Linked DNA regions of Homo sapiens. The protein of the gene in region 1 purifies or fractionates together with the protein of each later gene. This does not show direct contact. Each region holds a gene or a part of one and is shown on either strand. Other genes may lie near its edges. The genes, in order: ZBTB43 and TBC1D2.

Region 1 (3,808 bases):
TAATGATGACATTTTCCTAGTCACTCAGTCATGAAATTCAAAGTCGGCATTGGTACATCAGTTTGCCTTGCATTACTCTTTATTTTATTTATTTCTATTTTTTTGGGATGGAGTCTCACTCTGTCGCCCAGGCTGGAGTGCAGTGGGGTAATCTTGGCTCACTGCAGCCTCCGCCTCCTGGGTTCAAGTGATTCTTCTGCCTCAGCCTCCCGAGTAGCTGGGACTACAGGCACCCACCACCACACGCAGCTAATTTTTGTGTTTTTAGTAGAGACGGGGTTTCACCATATTAGTCAGGCTGGTCTCGAACTCCCGACCTTGTGATCCACCCACCTCGGCCTCCCGAAGTGCTGGGATTACAGGCGTGAGCCACCGCACCCGGCCACATTACTCTTTTTTAAACAGCTTTACAGAGACATAATTCATAAGTAATAAAGAGGTTTTTTTTTTGGTATATTCACAGATTTGTATACCCATCACCACAATCTAATTTTAGAACTTTTGTCTCCCCTCAAAGAAACCCAGTTAGCAGTTGCTCCCCATTTCTTCTACCTGTAGCCACGAATCTACTTTCTGTCTCTATGGATTTGTCTATTCTGGACATTTCATATAAGTGGAGTCATACAAGATACGGCCTTTTGTGTCCGACCTCTTTCATTTAGCATAACGTTTTCAAGTGCCAGCCGTGTTGTCACATCTATCAGTATTTCGTTCTTTTTTATTGCCAAACATCCTATTCTAAGGATATATCCTGTTTGTTTATCCAGTCATAAGTTGATGGAGCTTATGATGGTTTTCACTTTTTGGCTTTTAAGAATAATGCAGTTATGAACATTCATGTACGAGTTTTAGTGTGGACATCATATGTTTTCATTTTTCTTGGGTATGTACCTAGGAGAATTGTTGAATTAACGTGGTAACTCTATGTTTAACTCCCTGAGGTGCTGTCACACTGCTTTCCACAGTAGCTGTACCATTTTACATGCCCACCAGCAATGTATGGAGGTTATAATACCTACACATCCTCACCGACACCTGTTATTGTCTGTCTGTCTTTTGACAGCCATTTTAGTGAGTGAAAAGGGATGTTTAGTAGTTTTGATTTGCATTTTTCTAATTACTAATGATGTTGAGTGGTTTTCATATGCTTATAGGTTATTTGTATATCTTCTTTGGAGAAATGTCTCTTCAGATCCTTTATCTGTTTTTCAGTTGGGTTATTTATCTTTTTATTATTGAGTCATAAGAGTTCTTGAGGTATTCTGGATGCAAGTCACTCATTAGTTACATGATCTGCAAATAATTTCTCCTATTCTGTGGGTTGTGTGTTCACTTTCTTGATGGTATCATTTGTACCTTGTACTACTGCTGTATCTTCCTGCTGACCAGTTCTGTCAGTCTCATCAATGCCACCCCTTTTCCATACCCACTGTTACTTTTTTTTTTTTTCTTTTTTTTGAGATGTAGTTTTGCTCTTGTTGCCCAGGCTGGAGTGCTTTGGCATGATCTCGGCTCACTGCAACCTCCGCCTCCCAGGTTCAAGCAGTTCTGCTGTCTCAGCCTCCCGAATAGCTGGGATAACAGATGTGTGCCACCACGCCCGGCTAACTTTGTATTTTTAGTAGAGACAGGGTTTCACCATGTTGGCCAGGCCGGTCTGGAACTCCTGACTTCGAGTGATCCACGTGCCTCAGCCTCCCAAAATGCTGGGATAAAAGACGTGAGCCACCATGCCTGGCCCCACTGTTACTTTTATTACTACCTAGACTACACTTATTGAAATCCTATAATTAGCTTCTACTTCAGACTTTCTCCTGCTTTAGTCCGTCAGCAGATCAACCTTCCTTAACCATGCCTCACAGCACGTCACTTAGAAGTTTTCAGTGCTGCCCCAATGTAGACGTCTCATTCGGCTTTTTCTAGATTTATCTCCCATCACTCATTGTCACTCATAGAAGGAAGCACAAGTAATGATGTGTGTGTCACCAGGGTTAGTCTTGAGTGAAAGAGAGCCGAGGGAGATCTGAAATGGCTTTCTGATGGTAATTTCACCATAATCTAGGATCTTGCCGTTAGTGTGATTGGACCAATAACTCAGTGTCTTCAACATATCATACTTATGATGTACCAAACCCGCAAGAGATTAAAGTATACAAACCAGAATGCCATGTGATTTATAATTTTTCTTTCTATGTTAATAAGTGAGATTGGCTTGTAGGGTTTTTTTTGTTGTTGGCCAATTTTGATACCAGAGTTTTGTATAAAATTTATGAATTTTCTCCTACCCTATTGCCTTGTCCTCTTCTCCCCCTCTACTTTTTACATTTCTAGTTTTATCATATTGTGTAATCCATTGTATAGTCACATGTAATCAAATGTGCCCTGTGCATTTCCGCTTTGGAGAATTTATTGATGTTCTCTGTAGCCACGTATATTATCATTTTTGTAAATGTCCTACAGACAGTAGAAAAGGAGTATTATTTGTAGAGTATATAGGTATTGCATTAAATTAGCTTTATTGATAGCTGTCTAAACCTATAGATTCTTGTCCTTTGCCTACTTGATTTATTAAGAATTAAAGAGGGATACTTATATTTCCTGCTACAATTACAGTTCTGTTACTGTTGCCTTATTTTCTAACATTGTACTCTGACACATAAAAGTTCACAGAGTAAACTTCATTGTGAATTATAGGTTTCATCAGTTAACAATAAACTTTCATCCTGATTTTTACAGATGAAATTTACATCTGTAAAATTTTTACAGATGAAATTTACATCTGTAAAATGTAAATTTTACATCTGTAAAAATTTTACAGATGAAATTTACAAAGTAAATTTACATTGAAATTTACTTTGATATTAGTATTGTGTTGCTTGACTTTTGTTTTCATGTGACTTTTTTTTTTTTAAACTTTTGACCTTTTTGGTGATAAATTCTTTCAACTTTTCTATGTCTGAAAAAGTATTTTGGGCCGGGCGCGGTGGCTTACGCCTGTAATCCCAACACTTTGGGAGGCCGAGGTGGGCAGATCACGAGGTCAGGAGATCGAGACCATCCTGGCTAACACAGTGAAACACTGTCTCTACTAAAAATACAAAAAATTAGCCGGGCATGGTGGTGGATGCCCGTAGTCCCAGCTACTTGGGAGGCTGAGGCAGGAGAATGGTGTGAACCCAGGAGGCGGAGCTTGTAGTGAGCTGAGATTGCACCACTGTACTCCAGCCTGGGCAACAGAGCAAGACTCTGTCTAAAAAAGAAAGAAAGAAAGAAAGAAAAAGTATTTTGCCTTCACTTTGAAGATACTTTCATGGGTATAGAATTCTAAGTTGACAGGCCTTTCCGCCCCCTCCCCCACCTTCATTTCAGTATTTTAAAATGGTCTCCTGTCTCCTGGCTTGCATTGCTTCTGAGGTTCTCTGTACACAAGGGGCCTTTTTTTTGTCTGGCTGCTTTTAAGATTTTCTCCACTGATTTTAAGTGATTTGATTATGATGTGCCTTGCTGTAGTTTTTTTCATGTTTCTTGTGCTTGGAGTTTGTTGAGCTGCTTAGGTCTGTGAGTTCGTAGTTTTCATCAAATTTGAAAAAGTTTTGGCTGTTGTTTTCACATATGTATAAAATGTATGTGTGTATGTGTGTATTGTTTATATATATAGTTTTCAATATATAAAACTATATATATAGTTTTCAATATATAAAACTATATATATATAGTTTTCAATATATAAAACTATATATATATAGTTTTCAATATATAAAACTATATATATAGTTTTCAATATATAAAACTATATATATAGTTTTCA
Region 2 (3,828 bases), about 29 Mb from region 1:
CTGGCGGCCCAGGAAGGGCTGGTCTATGTGAGCTGGCGGCTCCTCCCCAGCTGCCTTGCTGCCAGGTCCTGCCAACCATGTACAAGTCCTACACAGCACTACCTCCTCTGATCTTCACATGCATTAGTGTGCGGCTGCAGCTGAGATGGTTCACGCTCAGAGGAGGCAGCCCCCTGCCATGGCCCTATAGTACATTTGCGGCACAGGCTGCCTCCAGAGCCCCATGCTTTCCATTTATCTAGGCTGCCTCCCAAATGTGGCTGCCTCCCAGATGTGCCTGTCAGAGAGGGGACGAGGGGAGACAAGCAGGCCATCTCCTCTGCACCAAGGCCTTGCTGAGCACAGTGGACATGGGCAGTTAAATATAACAGAAAGGAGGGTGGCTATGCTCGAAGGCCCCTGGAGGCTGAGTAGTCCAGTGGCAGGAGCTCGAGCTTTGGAGCCAGCCCTGGCCCTCTCACCGTGTGACAATTCCCTTTACCTTTCTGAGCCTCGTACTCAGCCTCCATAAGATATGTGCAAAGAGCTGGGCACAGTGGCTCATGCCTGTAATTCCAGCACTTTGGGAGGCTGAGATGGGCAGATTGCTTGAGGCCAGGAGTTTGAGCCCAGCCTGGGCAATATATTGGAATCCTGTCTCTACAAAAAAAAAAAAAAAAGAAGAGTGGTGGTGCACGCCTGTAGTCCCAGCTACTCGGAAGGCTGAGGTGGGAGGATCACTTGAGCCCAGAAGGTAGAAGCTGCAATGAGCTGAGATTGCAGCACTGCAGTCCAGCCTGGGCAACAGAGTGAGGCCCTGAAAAGAAAAGAAAAGAAAGGAAGGGGGGAAGGGAGGGAAAGAAAGAAAGAAAAAGAAAGGAAGGAAGGAAGGAAGGAAGGAAGGAAGGAAGGAAAGGAAGGAAGGAAAGGAAAGAAGGAAGGAAGGAAGGAAAAAAAAAAGATTTAGGCAAACACACCTGCTTTGCAGGATCATTAGGATTAAATGAGATAGTGCAGGCAGGGCACAGAGTGGAGGTGAGTCAACATTGAATAAATCAAAGGCCTTCTGGAACGGGTCCCCAGCTGTCCCACCTGTCTGTCATTGGTGCTGTCTGTTCCCCGTCCACCCCTGCGCTTACTGGCTGTGGTAAGTGGGGTTCTGTATGCACAGTGCAGGACTCCTTGGGCCTAAGGCTGCATGGAGTAATAAGAGGGTCCTTTATATTTGCATAGAATTAGTAAATATCTCTTGGGCATTTACTGTGTACCAGGCACTATCTAGGCCCCCAGCATCTTACAACAGAGGATCTCGTTGGGTCTTTAGGAGGCAGAGCAGGGATTCCCATATGCATTATACAGATTCGCAATCTGAGGTTGGGAGAACTGAAGTGACCTGCCCAGAGCTGTGTGGTTAACCCTCAGTGAAGGCAGGGCAGGAACCTGGCCTGGGGTCCTCCCTGTCACCACCACCCCTTATCTAGGGAAGGGCTCTGCAAGGTGTTGCTAACGTGCACTTTTGCTGGCAGTAAGTATGATGAGTACGGCTTCCTGACGGTGCCCGACTATGAGGTGGAAGACCTGAAGCTGCTGGCCAAGATCCAGGCATTGGAGTCACGATCCCACCACCTGCTGGGCCTCGAGGCTGTGGATCGGCCGCTGAGGGAGCGCTGGGCTGCCCTGGGCGATCTTGTGCCCTCAGCCGAGCTCAAGCAGCTACTGCGGGCAGGAGTACCCCGTGAACACCGGCCTCGTGTCTGGAGGTGGCTGGTCCACCTCCGTGTCCAGCACCTGCACACTCCAGGCTGCTACCAGGAACTGCTGAGCCGGGGCCAGGCCCGCGAGCACCCTGCTGCCCGCCAGATTGAGCTGGACCTGAACCGGACCTTCCCCAACAACAAACACTTCACCTGCCCCACCTCCAGCTTCCCCGACAAGCTCCGCCGGGTGCTGCTGGCCTTCTCCTGGCAGAACCCCACCATCGGCTACTGCCAGGGCCTGAACAGGTAAGCCACCAAAGCCCAGTGAAGGTGTGATCTTTACCTTTTGGAGCGCAGGTCCCCAACCCTCAGACTGTGGACAGGCAGCCATCTGTGGCCTGTTAAGGGGCCGCACAGCAGGAGGTGAGCAGTGGGCGAGAGAGCATTACCACCTGAGCTCTGCCTCCTGTCAGATCAGCGGCAGCATTAGATTCTCACAGGAGCGTGAACCCTATTGTGAACTCTGCATGCGAGGGATCTAGGTTATGTGTTCCTTATGAGAATCTAATGCCTGATGATCTGAGGTGGAGCAGTTTCAAAGCCACCCCTCCCCTACCCCAGTCCATGGAAAAATTGTCTTTCATGAAACCGGTCCCTAGTGCCAAAAAGGTTGGGGACCGTTGTTTTAGAGCACTGCTGTCTCTCTTTGGAGCCTCCCAAGAACCTGAAGACATGAGCCTAGGTTCCCCACCCACAGGCTGGTGAGAGGACATGTTCAAGACAGAGATGGGCCAGAGCTCAGAGCTCCAGGCCCCTCGTCCCTGCTCTCTCCTTTGATTTGTGCTTGGGGACGTACAACTTACATGGCCTCTCAAACTTTGGCCTGCTGGAATCTACAGGGTAAGGCCCCACTCACATATGGCAGGACTCTCTGGATCAGGAATCATTCGCTTTCAGTGAAACCCATGCAGAAGACCCGGGGAAAAGAGACTTTCTAAATGTTACAAGGGGAGTTCACAGAAGCCAGGAAAAGAAAACACAGCTGAGGACCAGATGGTCATTGGAAGCCAAGGCAGCTGCTGTCTGCAGCAGGGCTGCACCCCTGCACAACCCCAGGGGGCAGCCTTCATGCCACAGTCCTGGGATGCCATGACCTGAGCTCGTATAGCACCAAGGTACTGCTCTGCTGCCCTCTGCAGCTGCATGGCCTCTGGCCTCTCTTCATTCTGCGTGTCTGCTTCCTTCTCTCTCAGCAGACCAGCCTCTGTCCATTCATTCATTGGACATTTAGGGACCATCGAAGCTGTTAGAATGGAGACCTCAGCCCCTGAGTCTTGAGCCTTTCAGTGAGTCTTCCCACCCCACCCCTCATGTTCCAGTTCTAAATTCCCCAAAGAAAAAATCTGATTGGCCCAGCCAGGAATAATTTCCACTTCTGGTCCAATTGGTAGGGGACGCAGGGAGGGACTGGGGTTAGGGGATGAGGTCACCTGGTTCACAGGGCTATCTCCCCTCCAAGACTGTGAGGGACTGTCATCCCCCCGCTCCAGCCCCAGCTATTTCAGTAGAAGCTGCATAGTTGCAAATATTTTCCCAAAGCAAGTTTTCACTCGATTTAATTTAAACACACATATACCTAAGCAAAATTTACATAAGCCATGCTGCTTTTTTTTAGAATAGGTGGTGTGTGACATTTATTTAACACAGAATCAACATTCAGTGTCCTTACTCAAATTTGAGTGGTTCCCAAAGGTAGATATTTTTCATACTCTATTTCCAGCCTAAAATTGGGTGAAATTGAGCATGTGTATGTACAATTCCTGGGAATTAAGAGTTAAACTCCAACAGTAATGCCTCTCAGTCGAAGCCTCCTTGGAAAATATGTTCAGATTTCATGCCACACTAAACGTCTGCCACAGGTCAGGTCTGTAGAAATTTCATTCATTCAACAGTCTGACAAAAGCCCCTGTACTTCTCATTTGTTTGAACATGTTAAAATCCAGAAGAAACAAAACCTGCAAAGCCTCTTCTAAGAATAGCTGTGAAGGGAGCTGGAAGCTATGAGATCAGAATGAATAATAATTTTTGCATTTCACACAAAAGCCAGGTAGGAAGTAAAGCATAATGGGGGCCTCTTGGATGCCAGGTGTTT

What was found.
Region 2: the proteins of ZBTB43 (region 1) and TBC1D2 purify together in Homo sapiens (affinity purification with mass spectrometry; one large-scale study listed by BioGRID and IntAct). This does not show direct contact.

What each region holds. Positions count from the first base shown.
Region 1 is NC_000009.12:126,811,540-126,815,347, forward strand, and holds part of ZBTB43 (zinc finger and BTB domain-containing protein 43), read left to right. Parts: intron 1-3,808. UniProt on the Homo sapiens protein: May be involved in transcriptional regulation.
Region 2 is NC_000009.12:98,206,822-98,210,649, reverse strand, and holds part of TBC1D2 (TBC1 domain family member 2A), read left to right. Parts: intron 1-1,505; coding exon 1,506-1,982; intron 1,983-3,828. UniProt on the Homo sapiens protein: Acts as a GTPase-activating protein for RAB7A. Signal effector acting as a linker between RAC1 and RAB7A, leading to RAB7A inactivation and subsequent inhibition of cadherin degradation and reduced cell-cell adhesion.